4 linked regions of the Homo sapiens genome follow. The protein of the gene in region 3 purifies or fractionates together with the protein of the main gene of each other region. This does not show direct contact. Each region holds a gene or a part of one and is shown on either strand. Other genes may lie near its edges.

The links. Proteins that work in one complex are often made in the same cells at the same time.
Region 1: the proteins of ARMC12 (region 3) and ADAT3 purify together in Homo sapiens (affinity purification with mass spectrometry; one large-scale study listed by BioGRID and IntAct). This does not show direct contact.
Region 2: the proteins of ARMC12 (region 3) and SEPTIN7 purify together in Homo sapiens (affinity purification with mass spectrometry, with the first as the bait; one large-scale study listed by BioGRID). This does not show direct contact.
Region 4: the proteins of ARMC12 (region 3) and FLG2 purify together in Homo sapiens (affinity purification with mass spectrometry, with the first as the bait; one large-scale study listed by BioGRID). This does not show direct contact.

The regions. Positions count from the first base shown.
Region 1 is NC_000019.10:1,911,173-1,913,947, reverse strand, and holds the end of ADAT3 (probable inactive tRNA-specific adenosine deaminase-like protein 3), read right to left. Parts: intron 2,059-2,775; 5' UTR 1,901-2,058; coding exon 797-1,900; 3' UTR 501-796; downstream 1-500.
Region 2 is NC_000007.14:35,807,557-35,811,056, forward strand, and holds part of SEPTIN7 (septin-7), read left to right. Parts: intron 1-3,500.
Region 3 is NC_000006.12:35,735,532-35,739,831, forward strand, and holds the start of ARMC12 (armadillo repeat-containing protein 12), read left to right. Parts: upstream 1-1,500; 5' UTR 1,501-1,577; coding exon 1,578-1,740; coding exon of another isoform or gene 1,741-1,821; intron 1,822-2,467; coding exon of another isoform or gene 2,468-2,495; coding exon 2,496-2,641; intron 2,642-2,852; coding exon 2,853-2,987; intron 2,988-4,300. UniProt on the Homo sapiens protein: Essential for male fertility and sperm mitochondrial sheath formation. Required for proper mitochondrial elongation and coiling along the flagellum during the formation of the mitochondrial sheath.
Region 4 is NC_000001.11:152,353,507-152,357,006, reverse strand, and holds part of FLG2 (filaggrin-2), read left to right. Parts: coding exon 1-3,500. UniProt on the Homo sapiens protein: Essential for normal cell-cell adhesion in the cornified cell layers. Important for proper integrity and mechanical strength of the stratum corneum of the epidermis.

The DNA of each region.
Region 1 (2,775 bases), on a different chromosome or scaffold from region 3:
GCTCCCCACGCAGAGCCCCCACCTGCCGGATCCCCTCCCCTATGGGCTGGGGGCTCACAGCAGGCGTGTCTGGAGGCAAAGCTGCACCCACATGGTCAGGCAATGGACACTTGCCGGGTGGACCCACAGGTCCTGCTCCAAGTTCTGCAAAAACGGCTCTAGTCCTCACTGTGCTGTGACCGACTAGCATCAGCCCTTTGGGGTCCCCTGTTGCCACTTGTGAAGGACACGAAATCCCAGGGCCCTTCCTTAGGGTCGGTGCCCTGTGGACTACGCCTAGTGTCCACACACTTGGGCCAGGCACGCCTGGAACCATCAGGACTCCAGAAGCGGGAAAGGAGGCAGCAGCTGGGGGCCTTGCTCTACCCCAGAATCAGCCCAGGTCTCTGACCACACGTGGCTCAGCAGGTCCCCTCCGGCTGAGCCACCAGGCCCTGTACAGACCCCACCCCACTCGGGACCCTGGCCACAAAGGCACACACCTCCTAACAGACACCCACTTGGTTTTGGGCTGTTTATTTTCCCATCAGAGCAGTTTCCCGGCCCGCGAGACAGAGGGGACACAAACGCAGCAAGGGCGGCCGCAGAAGGGCACCGCTGGCACGGGGTGGCCCCAATGACCGAGTCCAGGAAAGCTCGATCCGCACGGAAGGCAGCACCCGTGCTCCCCGCTGGAGGCGGTATGTGTCCCTGAAATCCACGGTCAGGCTTGTGCGGAAGAAATCGAGGCCCGGAAGTCCAGGAGGGGCGCCCCACGGCCGGGAGCGGGAAGGGTCCGGAGGCAGGAGGGCGGCGCCTACGTGTCGGGGTCCAGCCAGCGGCACTGCTCCTCCAGCACCCCGCGGAACACCTGGAAGCGGTGGTTGAGGTCGGGCCGTGCGTGGATGCGGAAGCGGGTGCCCAGGGCGCCGTCGGGCGAGGGCGCACCGTAGAAGACGCGCAGGATGCGTGCGTGCACCAGGGCCATGGCGCACATGGCGCAGGGCTCGCGGGTCACGTACAGGTCGTAGCCAGTGCACAGGTAGGGGAGGCCGTCCTCGTCTGCGTCCAGTTTACGCACGGCGCCTGCGCGGACGGCCTGGGGGGCAGCGGCCGGGGCGAAGGAGCAGGCGGGGAAGGGTCTGAAGTCGTAGGTGCCGCGGCCCTGGCCGCGCGCCACGAGGTCCACGCACACCATGACGGCGTGCAGGAGGGGGTTGTCCGCGCAGCTGCAGTCGTGGCCGGTGGCCAGCACGCGGTCCGAGGCCGGGTCCACTACCACGGCCCCCACGGCCCGCAAGCCCCGCGCTGCTGCCCGCCGGGCCGCCCACACCGCCCGCTCCATGTGGCTCTGCATGGCGGCGCGCTCCTGCGTGGAGAAGAGCCGCCCAGCCAGGGCGCTGGTCACCTGCTTGTCCTCGTGGAAGGACGTGGGCCAGTGGGCCCGGGCCTCCTCGAACTGGCCCCTGGTCAGAGGCGGCCGGGCGGGCACGGGCACCAGGAAGGGTTGCCCCAGGCCGCGGGGGTCCACAGCCGGCCGTGGCAGGAGCTCAGCCAGCGAGCGCGGGCCCGAGGCCGGCCCAGCCAGGCAAAGCAGCATCTCCAGGGCGTGGGGGCTGCCGGCATCGCGGCTGGGCCGCACCCGCTTGAGGTGAGGCTGGGCGGGGAGCGGGTGCAGGGCCGACACCTCCTTCAGGAGGCGTGAGGTCTGGCGCTTGTCCAGGACGGGCGCGGCGTAGGCCAGCACCAGCTCCACGTCCCCTGACTGCTTCTCGGACAGGACAGGGAGGGCCTGCCACGGCGCCGGCTCAGGCTCCGGGCTCCCGGCCTCCAAGCACTTGGGCTGCTCCACGAGGCCCGGGGCGGGCTCCATCCTCAGCGAGGCCGACTGTGGGAGACAGAGACGGGAGCAGAGGATCATCCGGCGGCTGCGGGCGGCTGGGGGAGAGCCGGGGAGTCCGTCCCGGGAGGCCGTGGCTCCACAAGGCAGGGCGTGCTGCCACCAAAGCTGAGGCTAGTCCGAGGGCTCCGGCCCAGGTCACCGCATCAGAGCTACACTCCCTCATGTCCTGCTAACCCCTGGTGTGCACAGAGTTTAAACAGCCATTGGTTTTTAAAAACGAAGATATAATTCACCTACCAGAAGACAGATCATTTTCTTTTTTTTTTATTTTATTTTTTTACTTCTGAGACGGAGTCTCGCTGTCGCCCAGGCTGGAGTACAGTGGCATGATCTCAGCTCACTGCAACCTCCGCCTCCCGGGTTCAAGCTATTCTCATGCCTCAGCCTCCAGAGTAACTGGGATTACAGGCATGCGCCACCACGCCCGACTAATTTTTGTGTATTTTTAGTAGAGATGGGATTTCACCACGTCGTTCAGGCTGGTCTCGAACTCCTAACCTCACGTGATCCACCCGCTTCAACCTGGTGGTGGGATTACAGGTGTGAGTCACTGCGCCCAGCCAAGACAGGTCATTTTCAAAAGCACAATTCATGGCTAGGTACCAGCGGCTCACGCCTGTAATCCCAGCACTATGGGAGGCCGAGGTGGGGGGATCACTTGAGCCCAGGAGTTTAAGACCAGCCTAGGCAACATAACAACACCCCATTTCTACTAAATATCAAAAAATTAGCTGGGCGTGGTGGCACACACCGGTGGTTTCAGCTACTCGAGAAGCTGAAACAGGAGGAGCACTTGAGGCCGGAAATTCAAGGCTGCAGTGAGCTACAATCGTGCCACTGTACCCCAGCCTGGCTGACAGAGCAAGATGCCATCTCAAAAAAAAAATGAAAAC
Region 2 (3,500 bases), on a different chromosome or scaffold from region 3:
GTTTCACTGTGTTAGCCAGGATGGTCTCAATCTGCTGACCTCATGATCCGCCCGTCTTGGCCTCCCAAAGTGCTGGGATTACAGGCGTGAGCCACTGTGCCCTGCCAATTTTTGTATTTTTAGTAGAGACAGGGTTTCTCCACATTGGTCAGGCTGGTCTCGAACTCTCGACCTCAGGTGATCCACCTGCCTTGGCCTCCCAAAGTGATGGGATTACAGGTGTGAGCCACCGCACCTGGTTGCTTTTTAAAAATTTTATTGGGAGGTTTTTTGTTGTTGTTTTGTTTTTTTGAGACGGAGTCTTGCTCTGTCACCCAGGCTAGTGGCATGATCGTGGCTCACTGCAACCTCTGCCTCCTGGGTTCAAGTGATTCTCCTTCCTCAGCCTCCTAAGTAGCTGGGATTACAGGCACATGCCACCACGCCTAGCTAATTTTTGTATTTTTAGTAGAGACGGGGTTTCACCATGTTGGTCAGGCTGGTCTCTCCTGACCTCGTGATCTGCCTGCCTTGGCTTCCTAAAGTGCTGGGATTACAGGTGCAAGCCACCGCACCCAGCCTGGTTTTTTTTGTTGTTGTTTTTTTTAATAGGTAATATAATCACTTGGTTCAAAATTCAAAAGGTTAAACAGAGAGATACAGTGAAATCTCCTTCTTACTTCTACCCCCAAGTCACCCAGTTTCCTAGTCCTCGGCATCCTGTGTTAACAGTTTCTTGTATGTTCTTCCAAAGGTGTTTTTTGCATATGGAAGTTAAAAACATTTATCCTTCCTGCCCCCACCCTTGGTAGCATTAAGACACATTATTTCCCACATGTTTTTTTCCAATGAGTGTAATTTGGGTTATTCCGTATCAGTACATAAAGAGCATTCTTATTCTTTTATACAGCTGCATAACCGTTACATGATATCTCAGTCTGTTTGTGCTGCTCCAACAAAATACCTGAGACTGGGTAATTTATAAGGAACAGAAATCTATTTCTTACCATTCTGGAAGCTAGGAAGTCTAAGATCACAGTGCCAGCAGGTTTGGCGTCTCTGCTTCCAAGATGGCACCTTAAATGCTACTTCCTTTGGAGGGAACAAATGCTGTGCCCTAACATAGTAGAAGGAGCAAAAGGGTCAAGCACCTCCCTTGCACCTCTTTTATAAGGTCATTAATCCTATTAATACCATTACTAGTGATTAAGTATCAACATACAAATTTTGGGAGAACACATTAAGACCATAGCATATGGATAGATCATGATATGGGATATATTTTGATTTGTTTAACATGTCTGCCTCTGATAGACATTAATTTCCAGTGTTTTGCTATTACCAACTTTGACATGGTGAGTCACTTGGGATATTGATCTCTTCACATTTGTTAGTGTATCTAACAAATACACTAACTGTTAGTTTTTGAACTCTTTGAAGCAGGAGACTACCACTTAAAAGTTGTAGTATTGACATTGTCATTATATCAATAATGTATTGATGTTATAGTATCATAACATTGATGTTAAGTATTGGTAATATTGCTGTTAAGTCATTAGTTTAGAACTTCAACAATCAAGTTCATTCACTTAACAAATACACGTTTTGTACTTGCTGTGTGCTGGCCACTGGGGAAACTGAATTAAATGCTGTGGCAGTTGAAATAGAGGCATGGTGATTAAGAGTTTTCGGATCTAGAGTCAGACTTGGATTCATATCTCAGTTCTAAAGCTTAACTGAACCTTTGGCAAATAACAGAACTTCTATTTTTCCTTCTCTGTAATGTGGGAATCATAAGGTTATTGGAGAAGTAAATGAGATAGTACATGACAAATCCTTAGCATGATGCCTGGCATATAATAAACACTGAGATGTTAGCTTAAAAAAAGTTATCAGACTATATTGCAGTTGACTTTATGTTCTGCCTCCACTGTGCTTAAAGTCTAGGCCTGTGTTTTGTTCACCTTTGTGTCCCCAACCCATAACTGGCTTGCATTTAGTAAAAAATTTGTGATACGATATAAAGGTATGCAGAGCATACAGTGAAAGTTCAAAGCAGGATACCTTTTCCATGCTGGAGAAGGTGAATCTTTGAAAGTCGGTAGGAGTGATTAGGTAAAGGAGGTGAAGGAGTAAAGATAATTATTCTAGACTGAGAAATTATGTTAGTATCAGGTTATGAGGTTAGAAGAGGTAAGTAGGCAACTGGTATTGCTGTGCTGAGAATTTAAAAATCTTTATTGAAGGCTTTAAAAGAAAAGTGGTAATCGTAAGAATCGTGATGATAATTCTCTCTGTTGAGAGTTGACAGGGCACCAGGTTGGAGCCATTAAATTGAAGGAGTTTAATGTAGCAGTTTAGGACTAAAAATTGGTCAGAAGCAGGGCAATGGGAAAGGACATGAGGGGGATGGTTGTAAGGTGTTAGGGAAGATGTGGGTGGTGAGTAATGAGTCCAGAATATTTGAGCTTTCTGACTTGAGTGAATGGGTAGATGAATAGATGCTATTTCTTGAAATAGGTAATTTGAAACATGAAATTGAGAGGCCTGGGGGACATCCAAGTGGACATGTCTTGTAGGGTCTCAATACTAGGAAGACATCTAGGATAGAAAATAAACATTTTCTGATAATTGTAAATGTATTCATTTGTGCTTTGAATTTTTATGTTTAGTAAGTGAGTTTGTGAACAGAGTTGAAGGAAATTACAATAAAGTGATTTGTGTGAAACTTCGTTGTCCTTCAAATATAGACTGAGGTCTCCAGTTTCTGGGGTAGTACTAAAATGTTTCCTTTTTTTTTTTTTTTGAGATGGAGTCTTGCTCTGTCACCCAGGCTATAGTGCAGTGGCGCGATCTCAGCTCATTGCCAGCTCCGCCTCCCACGTTAACGCCATTCTTCTGCCTCAGCCTCCCGAGTAGCTGGGACTACAGGCGCCCGCCACCACACCTGGCTAATTTTTTGTGTTTTTAGTAGAGCCTGGGTTTCACCGTGTTAGCCAGGATGGTCTCAATCTCCTGACCTCATGATCCGCCCGCCTTGGCCTCCCAAAGTGCTGGGATTACAGGCGTGAGCCACCGCGCCCAGCCAGATGTTTACTTATTTAAAATTTCAGCTGGTACGTTTCACAGCAGCAGTTGCTTCAGACTCAGGGTTATGCTAGTGTTTCTTTGCAGGAGTGACATTTTGTATCCTTATATATTGTTATTGTCCATTCAGATTGTAATGAGTTAATGAGTTTTTTTTTTTTTGAGACAGAGGCTCGCTCTGTCGCCCAGGCTGGAGTGCAGTGGTGAGACAGAGGCTCACTGCAACCTCCACCTCCCTGGTTCAAGCAATTCCTCTGCCTCAGCCTCCCGAGTAGCTGGGATTACAGGCACATGCCACCACGCCTGGCTAATTTTTTTGTATTTTTAGTAGAGACGGGGTTTCACCATGTTGGCCAGACTGGTATCGAACTCCTGACCTGAGGCAATCTGCCCACCTTGGCCTCCCAAAGTGCTGGGATTACAGGCATGAGCCA
Region 3 (4,300 bases):
CTACCTCCTTCCATCCTGGGTGCAGCCCAGGACCCAGAGCCTTCTGTCCCAGTTCTCCCAAAAAGGGATCAGGGCCAGGTAGGTGAACACCTGTTCTGGTGCAGCATGCTCAGCACTGGCTGTGGGCGTGGCCCTAGTTTGGAGCTGGCCACTTGCCTGTTCTGCAACAGAGAGTGGGGACAGAAGTTGCGGGGAGACCCTGGTGGGGAAGAGGGAAGGGTCTGGTCTCACCTGCCCCATCCTAGTGGTGGGGATCAAGACCTCCACAGGTGGGCTCACATCCTCTGGGGTGGTGGCATCTTCTGACTCCAGAGGACCTCACAAGCCGCCTCATATCCCTGGGGAGGCTGAGAGGTGATACTTCCAAATTTAGCTGAAAGGCACAGACTTACCCACATTTTAATCCTGGAGTTTTAGAATGGTAAATCCGAATCCCTTTAGGTTACAAATGCAGAAACAGACTAAGGCAAAGGCGATCCCTTTCTCCTCCAAGGTCACTCTGGTTAGAAGGGTCTGGAGCCCCAGTTACTAGATGCTGTCATTGTTCTGCCGCCAAGTCCTTAAAGAATGGCAGAACATGACTTAAACCACCTGCTAAGTACAAGATTCTATGCTGGAGATGCAAAGGTAGCTGTCCTCAAGAGCACTTTGTCAAACAGGTAAACTTCAGGGCAACATGCAGATGCTGGAAAAGGGTGGATTTGCCTCAAGAGTCTGTGCATGCTTTCTAAGATACTCCCCTCCTTTTCATCCTCTGATGCGGGGAGGGAACCCTACCTGAAGAAACACCCCAAGGCCCAGGGGTAGATCTAGGGTGGAGAGATCACATATGGGAGGGCCCGGAAAGAAAAGGAACAGGGTTGTCAATGGGCATACCCCAAACACCTCACCCAGAAATGCCCTAAGGCCCCAGCCCGGAAATGGACCTCTGCTGCCCTCTAATGGTGGAAAGGCAGCCTCTGGAGCTACCTGCTGGGGTCCCCCCTTAAAGAAGAGGAGATGTGAAGGACACTTCTGCCCTCTCCCCTTTTATTCCCCTTCTGTCTTATGCTTCATCTCCTGTGGTCTCTAAAGCAGAACCTTCTCTTTTTTTTTTTGAAATGGAGTCTTGCTCTGTCGCTTAGGTTGGAGTACAGTGGCGTGTCAGCTCACTGCAACCTCAACCTCCCAGGCTTAAGCGATTCTCCTGCCTCAGTCCCCTGAGTAGCTGGGATTACATGTGTGCGCCACAATGCCTGGCTAATTTTTTTGTATTTTTAATAGAGACAAGGTTTCACCATATTGGCCAGGCTGGTCTCGAACTGCTGACCTCAAGTGATCTGCCTGCCTTGGCCTCCCAAAGTGCTGGGATTACAAGTGTGGGCCATGGTGCCTGGCCCCATCTGTTCTCGAGCACTCCTGGCTGCCCCATTTCCTGACCACTGCCCTCCATCCCATTATCTCCCCAGTTTCCTTTGTTGCCTAGGTTCCAATTCTGGTACCCTGGTTCCTGACCCTGCCAGAGTTCTGGTTCCGGAAGGCCCCCCACAGGTGCCTTGGGCCTAGCTCTCACCTGGGCCCAGGGCAACACTGAAGACATGGGCAAGAGCATCCCCCAATACCTGGGGCAACTGGACATCCGCAAAAGCGTAGTCAGCCTGGCCACAGGCGCCGGGGCGATCTACCTGCTCTACAAGGCCATCAAGGCTGGCATAAAATGCAAACCACCCCTCTGTAGCAACTCACCCATCTGCATCGCCCGTGAGTGTCCGGGCCCTGGGGAGAGGGCTCTGCCCCAGGAGGCACCTGCTCCCGAGGCCTCTGCTGTGGGAGGGCCCAAAGGTGATGCCTCCAAGTTCCTCTTTCCTTTGTCTTTCTCTTGTCCATCTTCCTCAAGCCCACCCTGCAGCGTCCTAGGCAAGGCCCTGCCAGAGATGCTAGCTCAGGGTCCCTGGATCTCACTCAAGTGGATCCTCAGACTCATCTGGCAGGTCTCCAAATACTACATTTCCTCTGGCTCCCAGGATTCCACTTCTTGGAAACTTGGTGTCGGCAGCTCCCCCCATCCCTTTTCTGCCCTAGGAACGTGAGGCTTTAAGGAAAGGGAAGATTGGAGGACTTACTATATGCCCAGAGCTTCCACTAGTCCACATGTTCTTTTGTGCAGAGTAGGAAAATGAGCCCCTTCTGCAAGACTCTTTATTGCCATCTGCTGGAATATCATTGCCACATACTGGTTATGATGAAATACTACTTGTTACCGCCATATGCCAGACAGTTGTTAGAGTAAATGGACAAATCTATGATGGTACGTTATGGACAATACAACATTAGATAGGGTGCCCTTGTGCAGTAAACATTCGTTCAACTGTACATGGTGGTCCTGCATATGGCGAGAAGGCTTCTCCGAAAAGGCAAGGCAGCCTTGTCCCCAAGTCCCTGTCCCCTACTTCCCAACCCCATTCTTTCATCACTTCTGAGTCCACAGCCTGAACTGGGCTGGGGTGGCTGTCTAGGCCTGGCAGTCGAGCGAGAGCGGCACGGGCGGGACTCAGGTGAGCTCCGGAGGCTCCTCAACTCTTTGGAGTGCAAACAGGATGAGTATGCCAAGAGCATGATCCTGCACAGTATCACTCGCTGTGTGTACTTGCTGGAGGCTGAGGTAAGGGAAGCAGGAGGTCCCCCCTAGCCGGCCTGGCCCCTGGGGGTTACGGCCGATCCCTGCCCCTGGAATGGCCAGACTATATCCTGGGACCTCTCTCTGGCTGATAGCGGTGGGGGGGGGGTGTGCGGAGGGATCTTGGTGACATGGGGGGCAGTGGGCCCAGAACACCCGCTTCTCCTGCCTCTTCCATCTCTCCCCAATACTCCAGGCCTCTGCTTGTACTACGGATGACATCGTGTTGCTGGGCTACATGCTGGATGACAAGGACAACAGTGTCAAAACCCAAGCTCTGAATACACTTAAAGCTTTCTCTGGCATCAGAAAATTCAGGCTCAAAATCCAGGTGAGCCCAGGGATGCGTGGTGGGGCATGCAGGATGTCTATAGTCCTTAAGTCCTTTAATTGCCATAGGATAAATGGTCATGTTCCAGAAGTTTGTTTGGGTGTGAATTTGTAACCCAGAAATAAGTGGGAAAACGGTGGTCAGATTCCCAGCAGGGTCATGAAGGCCTTTGAATTTCAGGATGAAACTGAATTGAGGCACTAGTGGTATCTCTCAACCCCAAAGAGAAGGACCCCCACTACCCCACAAGCTCCCTACCACTGCCACGTTTTTTCTGACACCAATTCCCAACACTGGCTGGGTGTTCAACAATTCAATTCAGTTCAGACACTATCCATAGTTAGGGCAGACTTCACAGGTTAAGGGCTGAGTCCCCCAAGACTTCCCCCCGACTTCAGGTACCAATCATAGGTCTGACTTCTGACTGGCCCGCTATGAATTCGGGGGTTCCCACAACTCCCTTTTTAGATCTACTAATTTGCTAGAATGGCTCCCAGAACTCAGGAAAGGACTTTACTTACTATTACTGGTTTTTTATATAAAGGACACAACTCAGGAACAGCTAAACGGAGGAGACACATAGGGCAGGGTGTCAGGGCGCGGAGCTTCCAGGCCTGTTCCTGGACCAAACTGAGGGCTGGGCTGCTATTGCTCCTGGCCCAATAACGAGATGCAGATGAACTGGGGAGGAAGAGAGTTTTTATTTCTGTAACCGGTTACAGGGAGAAGGCCAGGAAATTATCGCTGGACCAACTCAAAATTACAAAGTTTTTCAGAACTTATATACCTTCTAAGCTATATGTCTATGTGTAAATGTGCATTCATCTAAAGACGTGATTAACTTCTTTTAATTTATAACTAAGGTCTGAGTCCTGAAGACCTTCCACTGGAGCCTCAGTAAATTTACTTAATCTAAATGGGTCCAGGTGCTGGGGTGATTACCCTTATTTTGTCTCTTGCTAAATCAAGGAGTTTTGAGGAATTCCTTCAGATCCCAATAAACTTGTTTGTGGAGACCTGTGGCGTTTCTTCAGATCCACAGTAAAACTTGTTTAATCCTAAATGGGTCCCATTAAGAATTCCTTCGTAATTTTGTCATGCTTTAAGGCCCAGGAAAGGCCTAGGCAAAACTCCTGGTGGGCTTTTGTTACATTCCAGCCTTTGTATAAGGGCACTGGCTTTTAACATTTAACTTAACCACGCAGTCAGTACTGAAACAGTTGTTATGGAGGCCTGCCACAAGCTCACTTCAGGAGTGCCCTGCTGTTCCCAGCACCTCCACACGTTCAGCAACCAGGAAGCTCTTTGAACCC
Region 4 (3,500 bases), on a different chromosome or scaffold from region 3:
ACAAAAGCTTGGGTCTAGCTGTTCAGGTTCAGGAGACAGTGGGAGGCGAAGTCATGCATGTGGTTATAGCAATTCAAGTGGGTGTGGAAGGCCACAAAATGCTTCAAGTTCTTGTCAGTCACATAGATTTGGAGGGCAAGGAAATCAATTTAGCTATATTCAGTCAGGCTGTCAGTCAGGAATTAAGGGAGGACAAGGCCATGGCTGTGTCTCAGGAGGTCAGCCCTCTGGATGTGGTCAACCTGAGTCTAACCCCTGTAGTCAGTCCTATAGTCAGAGAGGATATGGAGCTAGAGAAAATGGTCAACCACAGAACTGTGGAGGACAATGGAGAACAGGCTCAAGTCAGTCCTCTTGCTGTGGACAATATGGGTCTGGAGGTAGCCAGTCTTGTAGTAATGGTCAACATGAATATGGTTCCTGTGGCCGCTTTTCAAACTCTTCTAGTTCAAATGAATTTTCCAAATGTGATCAATATGGGTCTGGTTCAAGTCAGTCTACTAGCTTTGAACAACATGGAACAGGCTTGAGTCAGTCCTCTGGGTTCGAACAACATGTATGTGGCTCAGGTCAAACTTGTGGCCAGCATGAGTCTACATCAAGTCAATCCTTGGGCTATGACCAGCATGGGTCTAGCTCAGGTAAGACATCTGGCTTTGGACAACATGGGTCTGGCTCAGGTCAGTCCTCTGGCTTTGGACAATGTGGGTCAGGCTCAGGTCAGTCCTCTGGCTTTGGACAGCATGGGTCTGTCTCAGGACAATCCTCTGGTTTTGGACAGCATGGGTCTGTCTCAGGACAATCCTCTGGTTTTGGACAACATGAGTCTAGATCACGTCAGTCTAGCTATGGCCAACATGGTTCTGGCTCAAGTCAATCATCTGGCTATGGCCAATATGGGTCTAGAGAGACATCTGGCTTTGGACAACATGGGTTGGGCTCAGGTCAATCCACTGGCTTTGGCCAATATGGATCGGGCTCAGGTCAGTCCTCTGGCTTTGGACAACATGGGTCTGGCTCAGGACAATCCTCTGGCTTTGGACAACATGAGTCTAGATCAGGTCAGTCTAGTTATGGCCAACACAGTTCTGGCTCAAGTCAGTCATCTGGCTATGGCCAACATGGGTCTAGACAGACATCTGGCTTTGGACAACATGGGTCAGGCTCAAGTCAATCCACTGGCTTTGGCCAATATGGATCAGGCTCAGGTCAGTCCTCTGGCTTTGGACAACATGTTTCTGGCTCAGGACAATCCTCTGGTTTTGGACAACATGAGTCTAGATCAGGTCATTCTAGCTATGGCCAACATGGTTTTGGCTCAAGTCAATCATCTGGCTATGGTCAACATGGGTCAAGTTCAGGACAGACATCTGGATTTGGACAACACGAGTTAAGCTCAGGTCAGTCTTCCAGCTTTGGCCAACATGGATCAGGCTCAGGTCAGTCCTCTGGCTTTGGACAACATGGGTCTGGCTCAGGACAATCCTCTGGCTTTGGACAACATGAGTCTAGATCAGGTCAGTCTAGCTATGGCCAACACAGTTCTGGCTCAAGTCAGTCATCTGGCTATGGCCAACATGGGTCTAGACAGACATCTGGCTTTGGACAACATGGGTCAGGCTCAAGTCAATCCACTGGCTTTGGCCAATATGGATCAGGCTCAGGTCAGTCCGCTGGCTTTGGACAACATGGGTCTGGCTCAGGACAATCCTCTGGCTTTGGACAGCATGAGTCTAGATCACATCAGTCCAGCTATGGCCAACATGGTTCTGGCTCAAGTCAATCATCTGGCTATGGTCAACATGGGTCAAGTTCGGGACAGACATCTGGCTTTGGACAACACAGGTCAAGCTCAGGTCAATACTCTGGCTTTGGACAACATGGATCAGGCTCAGGTCAGTCCAGTGGCTTTGGACAACATGGGACTGGCTCAGGACAATACTCTGGTTTTGGACAACATGAGTCTAGATCACATCAGTCTAGCTATGGCCAACATGGTTCTGGCTCAAGTCAGTCATCTGGCTATGGTCAACATGGGTCAAGTTCAGGACAGACTTTTGGATTTGGACAACACAGGTCAGGCTCAGGTCAATCCTCTGGCTTTGGCCAACATGGATCAGGCTCAGGTCAGTCCTCTGGCTTTGGACAACATGAGTCAGGCTCAGGAAAATCCTCTGGCTTTGGACAGCATGAGTCTAGATCAAGTCAGTCTAATTATGGCCAACATGGTTCTGGCTCAAGTCAGTCATCTGGCTATGGTCAACATGGGTCTAGTTCAGGACAGACAACTGGCTTTGGACAACACAGGTCAAGCTCAGGCCAATACTCAGGCTTTGGACAACATGGATCAGGCTCAGATCAGTCCTCTGGCTTTGGACAACATGGGACTGGTTCAGGACAATCCTCTGGTTTTGGACAATATGAGTCTAGATCACGTCAGTCTAGCTATGGCCAACATGGTTCTGGCTCAAGTCAATCATCTGGCTATGGTCAACATGGGTCAAATTCAGGACAGACATCTGGATTTGGACAACACAGGCCAGGCTCAGGTCAGTCCTCTGGCTTTGGCCAATATGGATCGGGCTCAGGTCAGTCTTCTGGCTTTGGACAACATGGGTCAGGCACAGGTAAATCCTCTGGCTTTGCACAGCATGAGTACAGATCAGGTCAGTCTAGCTATGGCCAACATGGTACTGGCTCCAGTCAATCATCTGGCTGTGGCCAACATGAGTCTGGCTCAGGTCCAACCACAAGTTTTGGACAGCATGTGTCTGGCTCAGACAATTTCTCTAGTTCTGGACAACATATATCTGACTCAGGTCAGTCCACTGGATTTGGCCAATATGGTTCAGGCTCAGGTCAATCAACTGGCTTGGGCCAGGGTGAATCTCAACAAGTAGAGTCAGGATCCACAGTTCATGGGAGACAGGAAACTACTCATGGTCAGACAATAAATACCACTAGACATAGCCAGTCTGGTCAAGGACAATCCACACAGACAGGGTCCAGGGTAACTAGAAGACGAAGATCTAGCCAAAGTGAGAACAGTGACAGTGAAGTGCACTCAAAGGTCTCACACAGACATTCAGAACACATTCACACACAAGCTGGATCTCACTACCCAAAGTCAGGATCCACAGTTCGCAGAAGACAAGGAACTACTCATGGACAGAGAGGAGATACCACTAGACATGGCCATTCTGGTCATGGACAGTCTACACAGACAGGTTCCAGAACATCTGGAAGACAGAGATTTAGCCACAGTGATGCCACTGACAGTGAAGTGCACTCAGGGGTCTCACATAGACCACACTCACAAGAACAAACTCACAGCCAAGCTGGATCTCAACATGGAGAGTCAGAATCCACAGTTCATGAGAGACATGAAACTACTTATGGACAGACAGGAGAGGCCACTGGACATGGCCACTCTGGTCATGGACAGTCCACACAGAGAGGGTCCAGGACAACTGGAAGAAGGGGATCTGGCCATAGTGAGT